Linked DNA regions of Homo sapiens. The protein of the gene in region 1 purifies or fractionates together with the protein of each later gene. This does not show direct contact. Each region holds a gene or a part of one and is shown in the gene's direction. Other genes may lie near its edges. The genes, in order: SLC22A13, PSTPIP2, MAN1B1, ACAA2, CTSB, CPT2 and ATP2B1.

Evidence for each region.
Region 2: the proteins of SLC22A13 (region 1) and PSTPIP2 purify together in Homo sapiens (affinity purification with mass spectrometry; one large-scale study listed by BioGRID and IntAct). This does not show direct contact.
Region 3: the proteins of SLC22A13 (region 1) and MAN1B1 purify together in Homo sapiens (affinity purification with mass spectrometry; one large-scale study listed by BioGRID and IntAct). This does not show direct contact.
Region 4: the proteins of SLC22A13 (region 1) and ACAA2 purify together in Homo sapiens (affinity purification with mass spectrometry; one large-scale study listed by BioGRID and IntAct). This does not show direct contact.
Region 5: the proteins of SLC22A13 (region 1) and CTSB purify together in Homo sapiens (affinity purification with mass spectrometry; one large-scale study listed by BioGRID and IntAct). This does not show direct contact.
Region 6: the proteins of SLC22A13 (region 1) and CPT2 purify together in Homo sapiens (affinity purification with mass spectrometry; one large-scale study listed by BioGRID and IntAct). This does not show direct contact.
Region 7: the proteins of SLC22A13 (region 1) and ATP2B1 purify together in Homo sapiens (affinity purification with mass spectrometry; one large-scale study listed by BioGRID and IntAct). This does not show direct contact.

What each region holds. Positions count from the first base shown.
Region 1 is NC_000003.12:38,268,812-38,272,311, forward strand, and holds part of SLC22A13 (solute carrier family 22 member 13), read left to right. Parts: intron 1-3,500. UniProt on the Homo sapiens protein: Anion antiporter that mediates the transport of urate, orotate and nicotinate in exchange for organic or inorganic anions. Translocates urate and orotate across the apical membrane of proximal tubule epithelial cells and involved in urate renal reabsorption.
Region 2 is NC_000018.10:45,995,761-45,999,260, reverse strand, and holds part of PSTPIP2 (proline-serine-threonine phosphatase-interacting protein 2), read left to right. Parts: intron 1-421; coding exon 422-467; intron 468-1,432; coding exon 1,433-1,512; intron 1,513-3,500. UniProt on the Homo sapiens protein: Binds to F-actin. May be involved in regulation of the actin cytoskeleton.
Region 3 is NC_000009.12:137,106,834-137,109,683, forward strand, and holds the end of MAN1B1 (endoplasmic reticulum mannosyl-oligosaccharide 1,2-alpha-mannosidase), read left to right. Parts: intron 1-416; coding exon 417-614; intron 615-697; coding exon 698-829; coding exon of another isoform or gene 830-1,129; exon of another isoform or gene 1,130-1,545; intron 1,546-1,554; coding exon 1,555-1,758; 3' UTR 1,759-2,350; downstream 2,351-2,850. UniProt on the Homo sapiens protein: Involved in glycoprotein quality control targeting of misfolded glycoproteins for degradation.
Region 4 is NC_000018.10:49,786,034-49,789,533, reverse strand, and holds part of ACAA2 (3-ketoacyl-CoA thiolase, mitochondrial), read left to right. Parts: intron 1-2,172; coding exon 2,173-2,243; intron 2,244-3,500. UniProt on the Homo sapiens protein: In the production of energy from fats, this is one of the enzymes that catalyzes the last step of the mitochondrial beta-oxidation pathway, an aerobic process breaking down fatty acids into acetyl-CoA.
Region 5 is NC_000008.11:11,858,088-11,861,587, reverse strand, and holds part of CTSB (cathepsin B isoform 1 preproprotein), read left to right. Parts: intron 1-108; exon of another isoform or gene 109-227; intron 228-3,500. UniProt on the Homo sapiens protein: Thiol protease which is believed to participate in intracellular degradation and turnover of proteins. Cleaves matrix extracellular phosphoglycoprotein MEPE. Involved in the solubilization of cross-linked TG/thyroglobulin in the thyroid follicle lumen.
Region 6 is NC_000001.11:53,199,824-53,203,323, forward strand, and holds part of CPT2 (carnitine O-palmitoyltransferase 2, mitochondrial isoform 1 precursor), read left to right. Parts: intron 1-895; coding exon 896-976; intron 977-2,499; coding exon 2,500-2,606; intron 2,607-3,500. UniProt on the Homo sapiens protein: Involved in the intramitochondrial synthesis of acylcarnitines from accumulated acyl-CoA metabolites.
Region 7 is NC_000012.12:89,590,694-89,593,838, reverse strand, and holds part of ATP2B1 (plasma membrane calcium-transporting ATPase 1), read left to right. Parts: intron 1-2,543; coding exon 2,544-2,855; 3' UTR 2,856-3,145. UniProt on the Homo sapiens protein: Catalyzes the hydrolysis of ATP coupled with the transport of calcium from the cytoplasm to the extracellular space thereby maintaining intracellular calcium homeostasis.

The sequences.
Region 1 (3,500 bases):
GTGTTTTCTAAACTAGATCTAGGAAGTGGAATGTGGAATCAATCTGTCCTCCTCCCTTTAAGGACTGTCCACTGGTTAATAAATTTTTTAAAAGACTAAAAAATAAACTCCTCACACACAAACACCCGCAAAACAAACAAACAAACAAACAAACAAAAAAAACAGCATTAAGATGTCCCATGTTACTCTCGAGGGGAACCAAGGAGCAGCTTAACAATTAGCATTAGTGTACTAGAGAGTCATTACAAGCATGCCTTGCTTTTAAGCAAACAAAAAAATTTTTTGAAGCAACAGAACAAACGAGTACTGATCACTTTTCTGACAATAAACAATGATTCAAAAGTAACTAGTATTAGGATGGGGAAGGGAACCATACCTATGAGCCTTGTCTTGCAAGAGTATATGTTGGTAGGATTAGGCATTTGTCATTATTGCAGAGAATGAACTTCAATTTTTTTTTTTTTGAGACAGGGTCTTGCTCTGTCACCCAGGCTGGAGTGCAGTGGCGAGATCTGGGCTCACTGCAACCTCCACCTCCTGGGTTCAAGTGATTCTCTGACCTCAGCCTATCAAGTAGCTGGGACTACAGGCATGCACCACCATGCCCGGCTAATTTTTATATTTTTAGTAGAGATGGGGTTTCACCATGTTGGCCAGAGTGGTCTCGAAGTCCTGACCTCAGGTGATCCACCCGCCTCAGCCTCCCAAAGTGCTGGGATTACAGGTGTGAGCCACCGCGCCTGGCCTAATTTTTAATTCTTAGTTTGACTTAAACCTTGCTTTTAGTGTGATGGCGACAAAAGCTGAGCTGAAAGGGCTTTGGAGAGATGTTCACAGCAGCACATGCCTGAGGCTCTCTCTTCTTTGGCTCTGGAGGCTTGGTTAACAGCATTCTTTTTTTATTTTATTTTATTATTATTATACTTTAAGTTTTAGGGTACATGTGCACCATGTGCAGGTTAGTTACATTTGTATACATGTGCCATACTGGTGTGCTGCACCCATTAACTCGTCATTTAGCATTAGGTATATCTCCTACAGCTATCCCCTCCCCCCTCCCCCCACCCCACAACAGTCCCCAGAGTGTGATGTTCCCCTTCCTGTGTCCATGTGTTCTCATTGTTCAATTCCCACCTATGAGTGAGAATATACGGTGTTTGGTTTTTTGTTCTTGCGATAGTTTACTGAGAATGATAATTTCCAATTTCATCCATGTCCCTACAAAGGACATGAACTCCTCATTTTTTATGGCTGCATAGTATTCCATGGTGTATATGTGCCACATTTTCTTAATCCAGTCTATCATTTTTGGACATTTGGGTTGGTTCCAAGTCTTTGCTATTGTGAATAATGCCGCAGTAAACATACTTGTGCATGTGTCTTTATAGCAGCATGATTTATAGTCCTTTGGGTATATACCCAGTAATGGGATGGCTGGGTCGAATGGTGTTTCTAGTTCGGTTAACTGCATTCTTTAGGCCCTTCTCTGTGAGTGCAGAATGCTCTGCATACTCAACAGCCTTCCAGTCCGAGGCCAGTCTGGAGTGATAGGCTTCTGTTTTTTGTTCTTGGCAAGTTTTACAAGAGTAGAGGGATCATTCTCTGAGATGAATTTGGGTCTCGACAAGCAAGAAAGGAATCTTTGGATAGCGGTGAGTTATCACAGGCACCCACTTTTCTTTCACATTTTTGAATGAGGACGGAGATACCACTGAAAAACTGACTAGAAATACATCTGTTTGTAGATACTTAGCAATTGCAATCTTTTATAACCCTCTTGCCCAGAAGTGTCAAAAAGTCCAAGAGCATATGGCTCTCCACCAACCATAACCATGACCACATAGTTGTTAGAAATAGTTGGTACATTTTCAGATGTAAATTTGTTTGTTGTGTAGGATATCGGTATGTTTTACCAATGGCATCATTGCTTACAACAGCACACTTAATGGTCTGCATTGCTGAAATAGTTTTGTATTTACTTTAAATATTTCGAACTTGATGTTGACCTCAGCTTCTCCCTGGGGCATGGCGGCACTCAGGACCTCTCTCCTAGACAGTGCTGGCATTGCAGTTGGAACTTGGGCCTCTCACTCTACCCTAACATGCTCTCCTCACCCCAACTCTTCCAAAGACTGTGACTCCCAAGGAAATGAATGCTTTGTGCCCTGCACCACATGCTAATCCCAAGCTCAGTTCCAGAGTGCAGCTGGCTTTGTGTGATCTTCTATCTCTGGTTTTCATCTATGAGGAAGGGTTCTGCCCATTGACCCAGAGGACCCTCTCTGAGCTGACACCTAAGCTTCTTTATTATAAATGGTGACTTCATATTTAAACTTAAATGCAAACAATACTAATTTGAAAAGAGAAAAGTATATTTCCATATAGGCTGTGTGCTCTTGAAGGTCAGAATATGTTTCTCCTTTTCAACCTACATTTCCTGGGCGTCCACCCTTGGTAAAAGAAAAAAAATGGGCTGGGTGCAGTGGCTCGTGCCTGTAATCCCAACACTTTGGGAGGCTGAGGCAGGAGGATCACTTGAGCCCAAGAGTTCAAGACCAGCCTGGGCAATATAGTGAGACCTCATCTCTACAAAAAAATAAAATAATCAGCCAGGCATGGTGGCACATGCCTATAGTCTCAGCTACTCCAGAGGCTGAAGTAGGACAATCGTTTGAGCTAGTAGTAAGCCGTATTCATGCCACTGCACTCCAGCCTGGGGAGACGCTTTCTCAAAAAAAAAAAAAAAAAAAAAAAAAAATGACTCCCCTGTCTACGTGGACCTTGGAATGGGAAGGTGGGAAGACCATCAATGAATAGCAACAATCATGTGATCTGTCCAGCGACCAAAGAAGTAGGAATAGGAGAGAAGGGGAAGCAGAAAGAACAACCATTTCTGGGGTCTGGAGGCGTGAAAATGCCTGGCATATTTAGGAATGCTGACATGGCAAAAGAGACTGGGAAATAGGCAACAGCTAGCTCTTCAAGGGCCTTAGATATAGTGCTAAGGAATTTGGGCTTTCTCCTAGAGGCCAAAGGGAGCTGTTGAAGGTTTTGGAATAGGGGAGGGATCCGGGATGGGGTATACGCCAAGAAATGAGGGTGGGATTCTGCAGACCACCATGGCAGGCTGCAGACAGAACCATCCACTGTGGGTGTTGGGGCTGGGGAGGATGACTGGCATCCCAAGTTGGAGCCCTCTTCATCTCTACCACCTGCAACATGACAACACCATGAGAGCTCAGGCATATCTCGGCGCCTCTCCAAGCCTCAGTCTCTGCTGCTGCACAAGGGGAATGATAAGCCATTATGGGGTTAGAATGAGGATTTAATGTCATAGCAGGTATATAAACTGAAGAGAGGTAGTGAATGGTGGCTGTTGACCAGGTGTGCCAGCCTTAGAAGACTCCAAGGCTTGGTGCTCATGCCCACAGGGCACTTCACCCCCTTGTGTCTGAGCTGTCTGCCACCAGGTGAGAGCTTTGTGAGCACAGAGGCCAGCA
Region 2 (3,500 bases), on another chromosome or scaffold:
GGAAGAGCGACAGAAGCATGGCTATGAGGGAGGGAGATGGGGTGATAAGAGGTTGGAGGGATTTCCCAGTTGTTGTCATTTTTCTTAAAGACTCAGTTCATGTATTCTTTGTAGTCAGGCTGCCTTTTGCTTGGGTGGATTACAAATTTAACTTTGTAAAATCTAGATACAAGATTTCTGCAACCAGAGGGCTGGGTGTGTCTTTAGGAAGACACTGGGCAAGATGCTTTATGGATATTTTCCAAGATTGATAAGATTGCAGGGCACGTTGAATGATTTGCTCATGAGGGAAATGTACACAGGACTTGCACTAGACCTGGTCTCTTCATAGTTACTGCTTTTCAATCTGTTTTGCCTGTGGAAGCCTCGTCCAGCATTCCCAATGCTTGCTCTTTTTTTGTTTGTTTGTTTGTTTTCACAGCTTTTTGTGAAACTGGCAACTTCAAAGACCGCAGTAGAGGACTCAGGTGAGGGGGCAGTTCCTACGGATGGGGGAGGGTTGCTGGTGGGGTTTACGTTATCCTAAATGTGTCCCTGAGAAAGGGAGTTTTATATACCTTAAAGAGAGAATATATGGATATTCAGCAGGATTAGTGAGATATCTGAAGGGAAAAAGGGAGGAAGGAAGGGAGAGAGTAAGGAAGGGAGGGAGGAAAGGAAAGAAGAGGAGAGAGGAAGGGAGGGTATATTAGAACCCCGGAAGGTGGGAGGAGGCTATGAGGCCACTGTTTCTGGCTTCTGTCTGCTTAGATCTTGCTGCCTTACATGGGAGTGAGATGGTGGAGTCATGTGGTAGCGGCTTTGCAATCAGGTGCTTCCTCTGATGTATTGGGGCATCTATCTAAAAGACCATTTCAGCCCCGGTAGCTCTTATCTGCTGTGAAACAGCCAAGCTGCAAGGCCTTGTTATCACTGAAATCTAAGACCCAAACCAGGCATTTGCAAAAGCTTCTAATTCCCAGAATATCCTGCAGGAAATATCCCTCATGACTGTGGTGGTTATGTACATCTTAATCTCTACATTTGAAACTAAAGTAACTTGGTGCCCCTTTAGGGCTCAAGGTAGTTCTCTTCTCTGCATCCTTCATCAGACAATTTTGAAAATGAAAAGCGATGGGAAATACTGAGGTGGAATTACACAAACAAAACCCTGGCTGAGGTTTCTTATCAGCTTTCACTTCTTCCTTAGAACCTTTCTTTCTCAATGTTAGGTCCAATGTTTAAAAAGAAAGTGATACCCTCCTTTGCCTACTTCACCAAATATGATGAGGGTGAGAGATGCAATAACTCCCAGTGCTCAGAGTCCTGGGGGCCTTGTAAGCTCAGCACAACTCGGATGAGTTTCTTTTGCCATCTGAGACCAGCCTGTGGGTGTATCTGCGAGCCACCTTCCTGTCTAGTTTCTGACCCAGGTCTCTCCCTTCTGTTGCAGACAAAGCATACATGCTGCACATCGGCACCCTGGATAAGGTCCGAGAAGAGTGGCAGAGTGAGCACATCAAGGCCTGCGAGGTACCCGTAACCGGAAGCTGCTCAGGACTGGGGTGGGTGGGTGGGGGTGTGTGTAACAGGAAGCTGCTCAGGACGGGGGGGGGAGGGGAGGAGGGGGAGGGGAGGGAGGGAAGGGGGAGTGGGGCCGGGGGTTGGGGGAGGACGAGGGGGCGGGAGGTGGGTCTTCTGCCCAGAACCTGGAGAGTCTACTTTTGTAGAAATGATCTGCCCGGATTCTCATAGGGTTACAGAGCTTGAGGGCAAATTAGAAATCAGAAATTTGGCCAGGCACGGTGGCCCATGCCTGTAATCCCAGCACTTTGGGAGGCCGAGGTGGGTGGATCACCTGAGGTCAGGAGTTCAAGACCATCTGGCCAACATGGTGAAACCCTGTCTCTACTAAAAATACAAAAATTAGCCGGGTGTGGTGGCGCACACCTGTAATCCCAGCTATTCTAGAGGCTGAGGCAGGAGTATAGCTTGAACCTGGGAGGCGGAAGTTGCAGTGAGCCAAGATAGTGCCATTGCACTCCAGCCTGGGCGACAGAACAAGACTCCGTCTCCAAGAAAACAAACAAACAAAAAAAGAAATCAGAAATTTAAGTGAAGAATGGAAGGAACTGGAATAGTTTTCCCCAAACCTTGTCTGCCTCATCCCCATCCTGACCATGCTGTCCAACAGTTCAAATTTTAGTCTAATGTTGGGTTAGCACAAGCATAGAATAGCTGAATCAGTTAATGGTCGATTAAGTAATTATCTTTGGAGAGCCCGGCCTCAATAGGCTCTAAAGGGAATGCCAACAGCAAGTGAGTAGGCTTTGGAGATTTGTTTGTTTGCTTTTTGTTTTGAGTCTGGGTCTCACTCTGTCGCCCAGGCTGGAGTGCAGTGGCATGATCAGAGCTCACTGCAGCCTGAAACCCCATGAGCTCAAGTGAAGTAGATGGGACTACAGGCGTGCACCACCACGCCTTGTTAATTATTTATTATTTATTTTATTTTTAAAGAGACAGGGACTTGCTCTGTTGCCCAGGCTGGTCTTGAGCTCCTGGGTCTCAAGCAATCCTTCCACCTTTGCCTCCTGAGTTGCCAGGGTTACAGGCATGAGCCACCATGCCTGGCTGGAGGGTTTTCTTTTTTTTTTTTACTCTCCTCATACCTTCAATTTCACCACTGCTCCCTTTCTTTTGCAGCAAATGACCTCACAATTTCCAAGAGAAAATAAAAAACATAACTTGGAAGCTTGCTTAAGTTTCTGTCATCCTGCCTACACATTTTCTTCCAGTGGTTCTCAAAGTGAGGTCCTAGGACTGGTAGCATCAGCATCACCTGGGAACTTGTTAGAAATGCAGGTTCTCAGACCAACCTCAGACCTACCGAATCAGAAACTCTGGGGGTAAAGCCCAGCAATCTCTGTGCTAATAAGCCTTCCAAGTGATTTTGATGGGAATTCAAGTATAAGAATCATTGACAGACACGCCTGCCCCACTCCTTTTTTCCTGTTAGCACAGAAAAGGGGCTGTTCCTTCCTTGTTCAAGATCTTTTTTCATCCAGCTTGCCTTTCCCCACCTTCTTGGGCATGGAGAACTTGTCAACTTCTGTTATCTTGCACACAGACTCAACTCTCTCCTAGCTTTAAAACCCACCAGTTCAGCCAGGCATGGTGGCTGCTAATGCCTGTAATCCCAGCACTTTGGGAGGCCAAGGCAGGCAGATCACCTGAGGTCAGGAGTTCAAGACCAGTCTGGACAACATAGTGAAACCCAGTCTCTACTAAAAATACAAAAATTAGCTGGATGTGGTGGCAAGCACCTGTAATCCCAGCTACTTGGGAGGCTGAGGTGGGAAAATCACTTGAGCCCGGGAGGTGGAGGTTTCAGTGAGCTGAGATCATGCCACTACACTCTAGCCTGGGCAACAGAGTTAGACTCCATCTCAAAAAAACCCAAAAAGCAAAAAACAAAACCAGCAGTTCTTACTTTCTATCTACGACCCCTACTACCCCCGCCC
Region 3 (2,850 bases), on another chromosome or scaffold:
GGCCGCCGCCCCTTTTACCTTGGCTTCCAAGGTGCCTGAGTCATGATGTCAAAAAGAACGAAATCCTGGCCATGGCGCCCACGTGGAGGCCCTGGGTGGACCGTGGCTGCCTGGCCAGGCCTGTCTTGGCAACAGGGCAGTAAGGCCTTGTGTGGCACCTGGGGTGGGCAGGGCTTCCCCAGGGCAGCTCCCTCCCCGTGCCCGGTGTGTAGCAGGTCCTCGGGCGGTGTGTGGGGGCCGGGTTGGAGGGCCTGGTCCAGGCAGCTCCGCTGTTCCATGCCAAGTGCCCTCGCGTGGCCTCCCCTCCCAGGGTACCAGGGCCGAGGCAGCGCTGGGCTCCCACGTTGGCTGCCCGTGCAGCTGCAGGCTGAGGGCAGGGCCTGGGATCTGGGGCTGAAGAGACCCTCTGATTCCAGGACCACCTGGTGTGCTTCCTGCCAGGGACGCTGGCTCTGGGCGTCTACCACGGCCTGCCCGCCAGCCACATGGAGCTGGCCCAGGAGCTCATGGAGACTTGTTACCAGATGAACCGGCAGATGGAGACGGGGCTGAGTCCCGAGATCGTGCACTTCAACCTTTACCCCCAGCCGGGCCGTCGGGACGTGGAGGTCAAGGTGGGCCTGGGCCTGGGTCAGGGTCCATCAGGAGGAGGGTGCTGGCAGGGCTGGCCTTGCCCTGAGCTCTGCTCCGCCCACAGCCAGCAGACAGGCACAACCTGCTGCGGCCAGAGACCGTGGAGAGCCTGTTCTACCTGTACCGCGTCACAGGGGACCGCAAATACCAGGACTGGGGCTGGGAGATTCTGCAGAGCTTCAGCCGATTCACACGGGTGAGCACCTGTCCTCGCCCCGCGTGGTCACGGCCACCGGGCCACAGGCACGGCTGGGCTGTGGGGCTCAGGCTGGCTCCGCTCTTGGTGGTGGCTGTGACCTGGATCCGGGAGGGGCGGGCTTGCCGCAGCCTCGGGGTGGCCACACTGCAGCTTGGGGGCCCTGGCATCCCCATCCCCACTGAGCTTCATGGTTGTGGGACCCAGAGTACTTGGAGGGGCTGGGCACCCCTCATTTTCATTTCTCAGGGCCTGTCTAGGGAGGGTCTCTGCTGTGGGCCCAGCATCCCCCCAGTTTAGGAGGCACACGCACCCATGACTGGGGCACCATCCCCACTGTGGACCAGGCCCTGTTTTAGGTCACGCCCTCCACGCCAGAGTGTCACTTCCTGGCTCTGCTGTGATCTTGGCCTGAGGCCCCCGCTGCCTCCGCTCCCACCGTCTGCCCTGTGCCCTGTGCCCTGTGCGGCAACTGTGAGGCCCCCTGAGCCCAGGTTCTGGGGGAGGCGGTTTCTGTCGTGGTCACTTGAGGGTTGTTGGCATTTCCAGGTGGGCTCCGGTGGAACCACACGGCTCGCCTGGGGGTGGCCATCATCCAGGCGCCCTCCACCCTGAGCTTGCGCTGGGGGCCACATTCACCATGGGGTGGAGAGCGCTTCGGTGATGAGGCTGAGGGGGGTGCAGGGTGCCCCCCGTGTGGTGACGAGGCCCTGGCTGCTGCACAGGTCCCCTCGGGTGGCTATTCTTCCATCAACAATGTCCAGGATCCTCAGAAGCCCGAGCCTAGGGACAAGATGGAGAGCTTCTTCCTGGGGGAGACGCTCAAGTATCTGTTCTTGCTCTTCTCCGATGACCCAAACCTGCTCAGCCTGGATGCCTACGTGTTCAACACCGAAGCCCACCCTCTGCCTATCTGGACCCCTGCCTAGGGTGGATGGCTGCTGGTGTGGGGACTTCGGGTGGGCAGAGGCACCTTGCTGGGTCTGTGGCATTTTCCAAGGGCCCACGTAGCACCGGCAACCGCCAAGTGGCCCAGGCTCTGAACTGGCTCTGGGCTCCTCCTCGTCTCTGCTTTAATCAGGACACCGTGAGGACAAGTGAGGCCGTCAGTCTTGGTGTGATGCGGGGTGGGCTGGGCCGCTGGAGCCTCCGCCTGCTTCCTCCAGAAGACACGAATCATGACTCACGATTGCTGAAGCCTGAGCAGGTCTCTGTGGGCCGACCAGAGGGGGGCTTCGAGGTGGTCCCTGGTACTGGGGTGACCGAGTGGACAGCCCAGGGTGCAGCTCTGCCCGGGCTCGTGAAGCCTCAGATGTCCCCAATCCAAGGGTCTGGAGGGGCTGCCGTGACTCCAGAGGCCTGAGGCTCCAGGGCTGGCTCTGGTGTTTACAAGCTGGACTCAGGGATCCTCCTGGCCGCCCCGCAGGGGGCTTGGAGGGCTGGACGGCAAGTCCGTCTAGCTCACGGGCCCCTCCAGTGGAATGGGTCTTTTCGGTGGAGATAAAAGTTGATTTGCTCTAACCGCGATGTCGCCTGTGTCTTTAGGGATCTCCATGACTGGAAAGTCTGGGCGGACGTTGGGGAGAAGGTATTCTTCAAGTCACGTCTCAGAATTCGGTTTGCTGAGACTGGACTCTAGCTGTCCCCTGCTGGTGGGCAGGGAGAGGCCACGGGGAAGCTCCGTGTCCCTGGCCCCACGGGGCAGATGCTTGGCGGGAGGCATCCTTGCGCCTGCGTTTCACACAGGGCCTGTTTCCCTGCAGGGCTGGCACTGAGGCGCACAGCTGAGGGATACACGGGCCCTCAGGTCAGGCAGCTCCCAGCAGCCTGGCATGGCTATGGCCCCGAGCCCTGGGCTGTGGTGGCAGAGTTGTCCTCATCATCACTCTACTGCTGTCCCTATCCCAGGGCTGACCCTGGGCCTTGGCTGGGTTCCCCCCGACCCTGAACCAGGTGACCTCTTAGGACCACGCCCCCTCGCTCTCCCCTGTGAAAAATCCATCACCTTCACTTCCGGAAGA
Region 4 (3,500 bases), on another chromosome or scaffold:
CCTTCTGTTCCTGGGCCTGAATATTTGCCCTAAAGTACAAAGAATGCTCCTGTGGTAGGATTGTCATTTTTCCTCGGGGCTTGAACAGAGCTGTACATTCCAGATGTCCCACAGTATCAGCTGCCCCCTTCATCTAGAAGTTTGGCTGTCACTTGTATATAGTGATGGGATTAAACAAAGTAACTCGTTGAAGCATCCCAGATGAATAAGTGGGGAGAATAAGTTATTAAGTATCTAGTGGGAACTGGTTTGTTAATCTAACTTACAAGAATAGTGGTTCTCAGTTCCATGATTACCTAATGACTAGCAATCCTTAGCCCTGCAGAATAGCTGCAGACCAAAAAAAAACGGGGAAAGCCATGACTTGAAAAGAATAGTACTGGTTCTGAGGAAATACACAGCTATAGAAAGACAGCACTCCCTGGAACTCCTCAGGGGTGGCAATGGTAGAGGTTGGTGGGTGGAACTTTGAGCCTCTTCAGCTGGAGCAGTCTGGCATTATCTATTACTTGGCATCATATGCAAAAAGAATTCTGATGCTTAAAGAGAAAAAGGTGGAAAACCCATTCAGAGTGCTATTGATGAGTAGCTTGTTGCCCAGAGAGATGCACAAAGTCGCACAGCTATTAGTGACAGGAACCAGGACTAGAAATAAGGTCTCCTTTTCCTAACAAGAATACTAAACCTTCCTGAAGTCCCAGTAAATAACAGTGGTCTGGGAAGAGTCCTTTAAAAATCGAGTTATGGCCTAGCATATTGTTACGGTGGATTCTGAGTTAAAGTGAAAGTACGAGTCATGCTTGCTGTGTTGTTTATGCAGACAAGGAAGTGTGTACAGTGGTCTGAACATTGTCCACCTTTTATGTGTCTGTCACCACTGTTGGCTACTTCATCCCCTCACCAGGCTGGATAACTGATGCTTTACTACTGACTACCCATCTCATTTTCATGATTTCATGCTTTAGACATACAAAGAGAATCTGGAATCAGATCCTGTAGTAAATCAGTAGCTGTAGTAAATCAGTAGCCACATGAAACTGGCATTTTAAATTGAAGTGCATTAACTGGATAGTCCTAATCAATAAGCACGTGGTTTGTTGTCCAAAGAGTATTTTAACTACGTGACAAAATAAATATTATATTTAGGTTTCATTATGCCTTTCTTGTAAAGACTGATTTTCCATTTTATAAGGTAAAATGCTTGTGAAACTTGATGCAGAATATTTGACTACTTGAATTCAGCAGAACATACTACATATTTTTCTTTGTAGACATTTTTGGCAGTTTCATTCTTTAAGAACAAGTCGAGAAGTAGATAATCTTCTCTACCCAAATTTTTTACCTTTTGAGAAAAAATATGGATTTAAATTATGAGCAATATTAAACTCTCATTACATCATCAGAAATCTGGGAGCTAAAGTTTATTTCAGAAGTCTTATTAGATGGAGTTGCATTTCTTAAATTAGGAGTTATGTTTTATTTAAATTTCCTGCCTACCCTTGGAGTTGTAAACATCACCTTACTTCATAAAACCTTCCCTGAAGTGCCTCGTAGTTTCCCATCTCTCTGTGCCCATGTGGAGATACTGCTATTTCTTGTCTTTTATCCAAATGGGCCTGAAAATTCAGAGTGTAGCCACAGTAACTTCTGTGCTGTGAATGCATATGGCTTGGATCCCAAGTAGAGCACTCAGTCTGCCTTGCTCTTTGATATCAATTATAATCTATTAACATAACTAAAATCCCATATATGGACTCCTTTGGCTGTTTTCAATCTTAAAGCCGTTTATGGTAGAACTTTTCATGTAATTCTCTTATCTGCAGTTTGAATGTATAAACAACTTTTCACCTTGGTTCCATTTTATTTTTATTATTATTTTTTTTCTTTTTTAGAGATGGGGTCTTGCTGTGTTGCCCAGGAGGCTAAAGTGATCCTCCCACTTCAGCCTCCCAAAGTACTGAGATTACAGGCATGAGCCACCATGCCTGGGCCCTTTTTCTGCCTCTTTATGGTCACTTCATTTAATAGGTACGGTCAAGGTAGTAAGATTTGTGGCTACTAATAACTGCCGCATTATTTCTTCCTTACTTGGAAAGAAGGAGAAGCTTGATACGTAAATATAAGATGACATTTATTTCTATATTTTTATAGAAGATTTTTATTATTATATAGGTCCTGTCCCTGCTATCAGTGGGGCACTGAAGAAAGCAGGACTGAGTCTTAAGGACATGGATTTGGTAGAGGTAAGTGTTTTTTTTTTTTTTTTTTTTTTTAACAACATGAATAAACCATGTACTTTTATAGCATAAATGACTTTAATTTGGTCTCATTGCTCTTTGAATTTCATTGTAGTTAGCCTTTCCAAATGATGTACATCTAAATAAATAGTACCTTCATTAGATGCCTTGTGTTGATACTTTTCCCCACCTGGTTAACATGCTTTATTTATATTTGAATATTCAAACTGCCTGATTTCTCTTACTCAAGTATAAATTCCTGGGAATTTCTTACTACTTTATAAAACTGTTACATTTTAGACTATTAACATGCCTGTTGAATATTAAAGTGAAAAAATATATGTAAAATAATTGACATAATAGAAAAGCAATATTTAGTGCCAAATCTACAAGTTTCTTGCCCTTCTCGCCAGATAGAGCCCCCTCCCTTAAATGTATCTTTGGCTTTTATACGATAGTTGTAGCTTGATTTGGGATGCACCTATCATAATTTTTGACACTGGAACTTAAATTTATTGAGTGATTTCTTTTTAAATGTTAGTATTAGAACTAAAGTGTCTTAAGCATAATTAAAAGAAGAGGTGGAGAAACATTTAAAGATGGTTATATACATTCCACACTTTTGGAATATTTATTTGAAAATTTTAGGTGATTAAGCATGTGATGCCTGGCATTGGGAAATAACTAATAGAACAAAGGAAATCTATTTAACTTGATAGCGAAGGGGTAGGCACAGGTGTGATTTCCTCTATGATAATCTCTCACACAGGAAACCATGATTTCAGACAAATGGTTTATCTTTAAATCTCTTCCACTTTTAGCAGATCACAGTTCAGAGCCTCAAAGAGGCTGTTTAATTTATTATATTTGTGTCAGCAAATAGGTACCACTAAATTTCTCACTTTAGACCTCACATTTAAAACTATTAAACTATATCAACTTTGGGAAGTTGTTCATAATCATTTGGAAATGTATACATTCTCAAGGACATAACTCAGACCATAGTTTTCCTAGGTTCAAAAGCCTAGTTTCACTACCTATTCTAGGTCTCTTAGTACCTCCTTGAAGATGGCTCTGTATATAGAGTAGAAAGATAATGGTGGATCTAAGCACATATGAGGCACCATCTTGAGAGACCACAAAGTATAGTAGGAAAGAGCACAAGACTGAATTTTATCCCAACTCTGCAAAAGTTACCTTTCTTAGAATGAGTTTCCTTATCTATAAAATTCCTGAATTAAGATCATATGATAATACAGTACT
Region 5 (3,500 bases), on another chromosome or scaffold:
AACTGCTGAGGGCCTTCGTAGTGTCTGCTGTTTCAAGTGTACAGTAGTCATTTTGTCTGCAGGATGTGGGGTTGCTGTGGCTGACCTTGTACAATATTCCACTCATAGGTGTCTTCAGGCCTATGGAGAGCAGCTTGCGTGGGCTGGGCCTGCAGTACCTGGTTTGCATAGATGATTGGCAGGTGGGCAGCACGGGGAAGGACCTGTGAGTGGCCAACCTGGTTCAGGTGAGGGAGGTGGAGTGGGGCTTCTCTGCTTCCCCTGGTTCCCTGGAAGCCTCCAAGGCTGGTGAGCATCACTGCTGCCTCTGCACACCTGTGTGCTGGGTGGGTTTTCTGACAGGTTTTCAGTTGCTTCGGGGCTACAGCTGCAGGGAGCCTGCTCCATGGGACAGATGGGCCTCTGGTGCCCGTTCATCAGGGGACTGATGAGACCGAGGCCTGAGAGCCCTTTGGATTTTGTTTTTGTCCTTAATTTAATCATAAGCCAAGAATCTACTAAACACAGTTCCATTAGGGGCAAAGACGTAACACATCAGAGGCCACAGCAAGGCTGTGATTCATACTCAAAAAGGAAAGGTCTCTGGGTCACAACAGAGCATAGTTGAGGTCAGCACACTCCCACCCAGTGCAGGGCTGCTCCAGCATTGAGGTGTGTCTGGCAGGTTGAAGTAGGGGAAGATGAAACTCGCCGAAGTCTTGTTTTGTGGTTGCACTTAAGTGGTCAAAACTTCAGGAGCAACTGCCGTTATTAGCGGTGAGTGCCAAGACTAGTTTTTATAGAAGAGAAAGAAACAAAGTACTCTGGGAAGGTCTTACTGAGCCTTCACAGTCTCCCCACCTTTCCACTGTTCCCGTGCTCTTAGCCGCTCTGCTGGCCTATAAGGCACAGTCTTCATTTGTGGCTTCTGGCAAAATGTAAGCACTTGACTTTTGTTTTTGTTTTGTTTTGTTTTGTTTTTTTGAGACGGAGTTTCCCTCTTGTTGCCCAAGGTGGAGTGCAATGGTGCGATCTCAGCCCACTGCAGCCTCCACCTCCTGGGTTCAAGCAATTGTCCTGCTTCAGCCTCCCGAGTAGTTGGGATTATAGGTGCACAACCACCACGCCTGGCTAATTTTTTGTATTTTTAGTAGAAATGGGATTTCACCATGTTAGCCAGGCTGGTCTCGAACTCCTGACCTCAGGTGATCCACCTCCTTGGCCTCCCAAAGTGCTGGGATTACAGGTGTGTGCCACTGTGCCCGGCCAACTTTCAATTCTTTAGAGCTGACTATGAGAGGAGCCAGCAGTATAGCCACAGCACCAACGAATGAGGAAGAGCAAAATACTGCATGACAGCTTTGCTAAGAATTCTTTCACTTTTTTTGTCTATCAGCCAGGAGCTAGCAACTTGGCTTATTTGGAAATTTTAAGTGTACATATCCTGTCTCCTTAAATCCTTTACAGATTTAAAGTGCAGTCTACCTGAGGGCTCTGTGACCATGTAAGAAAGCTTTTTCTTTCTTTTTTTTTCTCTGAGACAGAGTGTTGCTCTGTCGCCCAGGCTGGAGTGCAGTGGTGTGATCTTGGCTCACTGCAACCTCTGCCTCCTGGGTTCAAGCAATTTTCCTGCCTCAGCTTCCTGAGTAGCTGGGACTACAGGCAGCACCACCATGCCCGGCTGAGTTTTGTATTTTTAGTAGAGACAGGGTTTCACCATGTTGGCCAGGCTGGTCTTGAACTCCTGACCTCGTGATCCGCCTGCCTCAGCCTCCCAAAGTGCTGGGATTACATGCGTGAGCCATTGTGTCCGGCCTTTTTTTTTTTTTTTTTTTTTTTTTGAGACAGAGTCTCGCTCTGTTGCCCAGGCTGGAGTGCAGTGGTGTGACCTCAGCTTACTGCAACCTCCGCTTCCTGGATTCAAGTGATTCTCCTGCCTCAGCCTCCCAAGTAGGTGGGATTACAGGCACCCACCACCGTGCCTGGCTAATTTTTGTATTTTTAGTAGAGACAGGAGTTTCACCTTGTTTAGTAGAGACAGGCTGGTCTCGAACTCCTGACCTCAGGTGATCCGCCTGCCTTGACCTCCCAAAGCGCTGGGATTACAGGCATGAGCCACTGTGCCTGGCCAGAAAGCCTTCTTTATTGAGCTTGGTGGCAGCCCAAAACTGATTCTTTAAGGGTGTCAGGACTTAACACCTCCTGTGACTTAGCCGCACCTCCTCTCCTTTGACTTTCATTCCACCTCCTTCCAGGATCGCAAGGTCCCTATTTGTCCTGGAAACGGCTTCAAGGTAGTCTAGGGTGCCGTTTGCCGGGGGAGGAAGGTGCTCTGGTTGATAGAGTCGCCTGGCCGCACACTCTTTTTGGCACATAACAACGTTCTACAGAGCCGGGGTGGAGCGTGCTTTCTCATAAGTGCTCTGCAGGTTTGGAGAGAGAGGATATGAGGAGCACCCTTTTCTGTTTTTTTTAACCCAAAGATTAGCTTGGAAAAGGGGCAGAGGGGTGCACTGGAACTCAGGTCTGCCTAAGCAGCACAGCAGACCAAGGTCTAGAGATGACATCTGCTCGCAGCTGTTCTTCCACCAGCCCGCATCCTGGAAAGGGGTCTTGTGGCACACAAGAGTTCACATCCTTCCCTCGTGAAATAAGGACTTTGTGTTCATCATCTCTTGTAAGAAGCAGAGCAGAAAGCACAGAATTAAGAAATAAAAGGGAAGTGGGTGCCTATATAAAGGGAAGTGAAAATGGGTTGCTGTCCCATGCAAAGACCCTGGAAAGCTGTTAACAGCTCAGCTTGTCACTTTCACCATCTGCATTTGTCCAGAGTGATTGAGATTTGCGTTGTTGTGGAGAGAAAGGCGCCTGTTGCACAATGGAGTGAGATTGCCACTGCTGTCAGGACCTCTGTGTTTGGCTTGACACTTTTTGAGTTCTCAGCAGTCTCGGGACCCTCAAGAGTGGAAGCATTTTTGGATGTTAAATGCTGGGGTTAATTGAAGTTAAGAGCTTGTTTTACTGGGCATGGTGGCTCACACCTATAATCCCGACACTTTGGGAGGCCAAGGCGGGCAGATCACTTGAGTCCAGGAGTTTGAGACCAGCCTGGGCAACATAGCAAAACCCCATCTCTACAAAAAATACAAAGCTGGGCGTAGTGGTGTATGCCTGTAGTCCCAGCTCCTTAGGAGGCTGAGGGGAGCAGATCTCTTGAGCCCAGGAGGCAGAGTTTGCAGTGAGCCATGATCGTGCCACTGCACTCCAGCCTGGGCAACAGAGTGAGATCCTGTCTTAAAACAAACAAAAAAAACAAACTTGTTTTCATTTAGACTCTTCCTGGCGTTGGGGACCTATTGGAATAGGTTTAGTGTGAACTGAGAGCTAGAAGTGTTAGAGGAGAGAGGGAGGGAACAGAGCCCGCTGGAGCGAGTGCCCTTCCTACCTTATCACTGCATGCCAGGCATGTGCCGGCGCTTTGGTCCTCCTCATTTCATTCTTGACTGCCACCTGAGACACGA
Region 6 (3,500 bases), on another chromosome or scaffold:
AGTATATCTTATATTAGGCTTTTAAACTGCTTTATGTATCATGTTTCAGTTTTCCTAAATGACTGATACATTTCAGTATTTTGCATATCAGTGTTAATTTTGAGTTGGTAGAGGCAGCCTAACAAACTCTGATTGTTTTGCTATTAGGGGATATTTCCTTCAATAAAACCAATGAATTGAAAGAGAAAATACACCTCACTTTACTGTCCATGTGTTTTCATTTCACAATAAGCCAGTAACTTCATCACCATAGCCATCTTTGGGAATCACTAGTAGACAGAATGATAAGTAGGCAAATTGCTGTTCCTGTTATTTAAGCACAGGGACTATTTGGTTCTTCCTAATGGCGTTCCTGGTATCTGGGCATGGCTCACTGGTCGATTCCTACCTTTTAGTGACTGTAGCCCCCATATATGGCTGGCCCTTGGACAGATCTGTGTTTCACTCTTATATAATTATTTGTTGTAAAATGCAGAAGAAAATTTAAAAAATAGAACCTTTTCATTTTATCCTAGGGGAGAAAAATGCAGTTGTTCAAACTAAGGGTAGAATTAAATCAGGGCCAATACAGTGTTAGCACAGGTGTTATCATTGTGACCAGAAAACAGGAATTCTTGGGGCAGCTTCTGCTTCCCCATTTTGAATCTATTATTGTTATTTAAAATAATTATATTTGTATTTTACTTAAAGATTTAGTTGTTATTTTACTTAAAAGTAGAGTTACCATTGATATACTTGGCATTAGTAAACCCATTGATTCTGATTTGTCAGTCGCTTCTGATTATTGGTTTTGGGGGAGGAAATTAATGATCTAGTAATCAGTTCATTAGCTTGTAAAGCTAATTAACCTCTTCCATATACTGTCAGCCTTACACTGACCCTGCTTTCTCCCCAGGCTGCCTATTCCCAAACTTGAAGACACCATTAGGAGATACCTCAGTGCACAGAAGCCTCTCTTGAATGATGGCCAGTTCAGGTAAACACTGAGAACCTTGGGTGAGCATAGTTGGGGTGGTTCAAGACAGGCTGGCAAGTAGTGGTGGACCAAGCTTCAGGGAATGTCTGTGACGTGGCTGGGTCTCCAGGAACCCAGAACCTAGTTGTACATCTGCAAGTTCAGGAAATAGATTTTCATTCATGAAGGACTGACCAAGCCCCGAGAGTTCCTCTAAACAGGCTCAACAGGAGATAGTTTATAAGCCAGAATGCCAAATGTGTACTTTCCCTTAGCAGGTGTACCTGGGAGGCTCGCTGGTCCTGGTCATTTATAGAGAGCATGTACCCTTGGAAGGGAGGTCCATTGAGGAGACCATACGGCAGACCAGAAGTCTGCATCGTGAGCATGTTTATTGAGTTGGATAGCATGCCTCCAAAATTTATGCCCTTTTTCATGAAATTTAGTATATGATCTTATTTGGAATTAGGGTTGTGGCAGATGTAATTAGTTAAGATGAGGTCCTACTGGAGTATTGTGGGTCCTTAATTAAATATGACTGGTGTCCTTGTAAGAAGACACAGAGACAGCGGTGTGAGGACACAGGCAGAGATTGTGTCCTCTGCCTGTGTCAACAAGCCAAGGCATGCCAGGGATTGCTGGCAACACCAGAATCTAAGAGAAAGCCATGCAACAGATTCTTCCCCAGTCTTCAGAGAAGATATAGTCCTACTGACACCTGGATTTTGTCCTTAAAGCTTCCAGAACTGTGAGAGAATAAATTTCTGTTGTTTTCAGCCACCCAGTTTGTGGTGTTTTGTTATAGCAGTCCTAGGAAGCAAATACAGCATGGAATTGGAAAATAATATCAAATATTGTCAAAAAGTGGATTGCATTAAGCTCTTATAGCCTAGTGTAGTACTCTTTTTCCATAATGGAAATTTTTCTGTACAGGTAACTGGCATTGTTGTTGGAATCACAGAACTCTTCACTGGACAGTGATGGAGAAGCAGATGAATTATCCATAATCTAGGCCTCTGTTTTCAAATATTTGTTATTAGTCATTTAAAGTTTCTCTTGATATGGTAATAGCTACCAGTTATTGAGTATTATGTTTTAGGATATTCTAAATCCTTAGCTTTATAAATATTTTTAATCTTGTAAAGTGGTATTATTATCCATTTTACACATCAAGAAACCGAGACTCAGATCAAGTAACTTATCCAAGATCACACAGTTTGAAAAGCAACAGAGCTAGGATTCAGACTTAACTTCTGTTGACTCCAGAGCTTGTGTCCTTTTCTCCATGCCAAACTGCCTCCTAGGATATGGATTATTTTGTGAGATGTTGATTGATTTTCCTAATCATTCATTTTAAGAAGGTAGTCTAGATTATCAATTTTAGATTGATTCCTGTTCTGGTTAGAGGTACTTTCTGATCTCATTCCAGGTTTTAGGGCTATGCTGTTGGGGACCCAAAACTCTATTATGAGTTCCTCGCCATGAACCTAAAAATCATGTATTCCCTACCATGGTTTGATTTTGTCTTTTCTTGAATGTTTTAGGAAAACAGAACAATTTTGCAAGAGTTTTGAAAATGGGATTGGAAAAGAACTGCATGAGCAGCTGGTTGCTCTGGACAAACAGAATAAACATACAAGCTACATTTCGGGTAGGTAGGCTGGGCTGTGGGTATGATTTCTCCCAGAGCCCTCCATAATGAAAAGTAAGGCATATTCTCTCCTGTTTTGGTCTCAGAGATATTTTTGGTGAGACCAGCAAATGAAGTAACGTCTCATCCTCCCTTCCTGAGGTAAATTAAGGCTGAGTGTGTTCCTCCTCTACTGAGGTGTTGACTTGAGCCCATGCTCAAGAATGATGGCCAGCCTTCTCTGTAGATGGGATTGAGGCAGAACCTAATCAATGGTCCTGTCTGAAAAGGATGCAGGATTAAGTCCTATGTCCTATATCATTCTGGGTCCTTCACTGTCAGACAGAACTGTCCTCTCCAGCCTCTTCTCTCACCACCCACCCTGACATACTTCCTGCTAAACTCCTCATTGCTCCCTGAACCCTTAGTCTTTCATTCTTTTGTGCCTTTATCCATGCTGTTCCCACTACCATTTTTTTGCCTGGCAAATTCTTCTTTTAAGATCCAAGGAGGATGGTTTTCTGTGAAACCTTCTCAGTCCTTTTTCCTTTCCATTCAGAGTTGGTTGCTTCCACCTCTGTTCCTACAGCACTTCTTTTAATTTAGTTTATATATTTACCAAGGTTATACATGCATATAGTTTAAAGAATCAGACAGTTCTATAAGGCTTGTTAGGAAAAACAGCAACTTCCTCATCATCTTATTTCCCACTTCTCACTTTCAGCTCCTAAATCTTTTGTTATATACCCCCGTATCTCTAAATTAGATACTTACCTTACTGCATCTTGATTTTTTTGCTTTAGTCATTAGCTATTGACATCTCACTGTAGAAGATTAGAATTCAGCAGTACTTTACATCCCACCACATATGTGGGATGTGTATACACATACTTCCTATCCCCTTATTTTCACAGC
Region 7 (3,145 bases), on another chromosome or scaffold:
GTTTTATTATTTATGAAGTGGTTAGAAAAAAAAAATCTCTAATATTGTTCAACAAATTCAGATAGGAAAAATCTTCTCAGAATTGAAGTTTTGCTAAGAAGGGATTTAATCTTTCTTTGCCTGCCACCGGTGTATGTGTGTGATTGTGTGTGCACATATACTTGTTGCCCTCACCTTTACACTCTGCCCCTCTTAGAGCTTCACTAACTCTCAAATCTCTAACTTAAGTTTACACTTTTCTTCTGAGCTCTAGATATTTTCCAAATTTAACATGTTTAAAAAGTACATTTATTTCCCCCCGATTCTTCACTGCTCACTTTTATACCGACTGATTACAAAGAAAAACAGATGGAAAACACACACATACACAGAAAGCTTAACTGTTGTTCTATCTTCAGTAGCAGCAGCACCAGCAACCTTATCAAATAAGCAACATCTTCAGGGTTGTCTTGAACAGTTCTCATCACCCATCAAGTTTGCTGGCTGATCCTCTAATTTGTATTCTCCTCCGTGCCTACGGGCTGCTGATACCAACAAATTTTTTTTTAGAAAGTTATCTTTTTGCATTTTAAGCTTTACAGTTTGTTATTAGGACAGTCAGGATACTTGCTGAATGTTCACATGTATAAAATGTGAATTTTAAGACTTCACAATAAAACACTGAATGAATTACTATAACGTTATATTTAGCAAACATTGTTTACATTCCATATGTAGAACACTTTACATCTTAGTAAAGGGGAAGAGGAACAAGAGCAATAAAAGAAGTTGAAAAATATTTGCTGCTATTCATCAGTCAAATTAAGGAACTGAAGTACAAGCAATCAAATAGAATGGAATTATAAAAGATGGTAAAGCTGCAAGACATTAATAGAATAGATGCTTGCTGCTCCAAGTGTGGATCATGGACCAGCAGCTTTAGCATCACCTTGGAGGTTGTTAGAAATGCAGGACTTTAGGCCCCTGCTGAATCAGAATCTGCATTTTAACAAGATCCCCAACTAATTTGTATGCACATTAAAGTTCGAGAAGCCCTGGCCTCGATACTTGTGACCTAACATTGTTTTAAGTTTGTAGTGTGCTAACGAATTTAATCTCCCACAACAACCCCGTAAGGCAAGTACCATTGCTATTTCCCATTTTATAGTTGAAGAAACCTGTTTGACCGAGGTTCCTCAGGTAGTAAGTGGCAGAGCTGGAATTTACACCCAGACATTTTGCTTTTGTATTTCTCAGTTGACTATGCTGTACTCTCTATATAAAGGGCTAAGTGAATATGGACTAAAAGCAGCTTACAAATAGGGCTTGGCAAATAAGGAAAGACAACTTGAAGGTGAGATGTGGGTGCATGGCCCTAAACTCTACATTACATTTTTTTAAACACATTCACATGTTCATTTGAAGAAATGTATTATTCATTATTGCTGTCTAAAGAGATGAATTTGGTGACCGCATCTTTTTTCTAGAATGTCAAAGTGTTATTTATTTCTCTTAACAATGAGTAAATGATGTCTTTATTACTAAACAGGATTTATTAGAATCAAAGCAAAAGCAAACACTGTATTTGAATTGATACATAGTAAATGCTCAACTAGTTGGATTTTGTCCTTTTTTTTCTAAATCTGAATGACGCTTGAGTTAATAGCACTTAATGTCAGTGTGTGCACTGATGTTTTTAAGTTTGATTGCCCACTAATCTTTTTCATTTATACAGCAGACTGAGAGGAAGATGAATTGTTGAGCTATCTGCTTAGGGGTGAAAATACTAGAAAACTTTTAACACTTTGTGTCTTCTTGGGAAATTTTTCACAGAAGAATCCCAGAGGATTTGTTTTTGTTTTTGATCTATTCTTTCCAGATAACTGTAGTAATTGATTTAAGTTTTAATCTGTTACAGAGAAAAACACTAAAACTTTATAGACAAATGATAGACAAATGGCATATACTCAAATATTTATAGCTGTTTAATGGCATTTTATAGACATTTATTTGGGTTTTGTTCTTATTTTTGTTTTTAATTAAGGGAGTAGTGGGGTAGATGTGAGTTCATTGTGGCATTCAGCTTATATTTGCTTGGCTTTTTCATGGTCGGTGACACCCTAATTCCTAGCATGATAAATAGTAACCCTTTGTGCTTGATTTTGTTTAACTTATTTGAGTTGTTTTCAAAATACATTCTTTTTAATTTAAAAAATCAGCTAAGCTTGTGTATGGTTAAGTTTTTGTTTTGTTTTGTGTTTGATTTGTTCTTTTAGGGAAAAAATCCTATAAAATGGCTATTAAATTTTTAGCCAATGACAATGAGATTTTCTTAATATTACTTTGAATTCTTTACCTCTTAATTCTTAGAGTATGTGGTTTTGTTGTTCTGTAGTGTCTTACTAAAATATTCATTTTTTTACAGTGTATTGCAAGTTCCACTGCATTACATGCAAATATGATTCACTCATACCTAGCTGTTTGTGGATTCAAACTCATAAATGAACCATTTTTAAGTTGTTAATAGTGTACTGACATATTTCTGTATTTTCTGATATTTACAGATTCGAGTGGTGAATGCATTTCGTAGTTCTTTATATGAAGGGTTAGAAAAACCGGAATCAAGAAGTTCGATTCACAACTTTATGACACATCCTGAGTTTAGGATAGAAGATTCAGAGCCTCATATCCCCCTTATTGATGACACTGATGCCGAAGATGATGCTCCTACAAAACGTAACTCCAGTCCTCCACCCTCTCCCAACAAAAATAACAATGCTGTTGACAGTGGAATTCACCTTACAATAGAAATGAACAAGTCTGCTACCTCTTCATCCCCAGGAAGCCCACTACATAGTTTGGAAACATCACTCTGATTGTAAGCTGAATGTTAACACACTAGCTGCATTGTAAAGAAACAAATTGAAACTGGGTCTTTTCACATATTGTGATGGACAAGCTAGTATTCTTGTCTTTGGACTTCAACAGAAGACACACTTGTACGAATGTAGATTTATTTTTTTAAAAAAAAAAAAGCAAAGCTTTCTGCCAGACTGAGGGTGCTTTTTGGGGGGTGGGAGAAATGAACTGACAGATAAACAGTAACTCAGCGTAAGTGACCTGTGGATCATCAGTAGTACCCAAGCATGGTCCTGAACAGTGTATT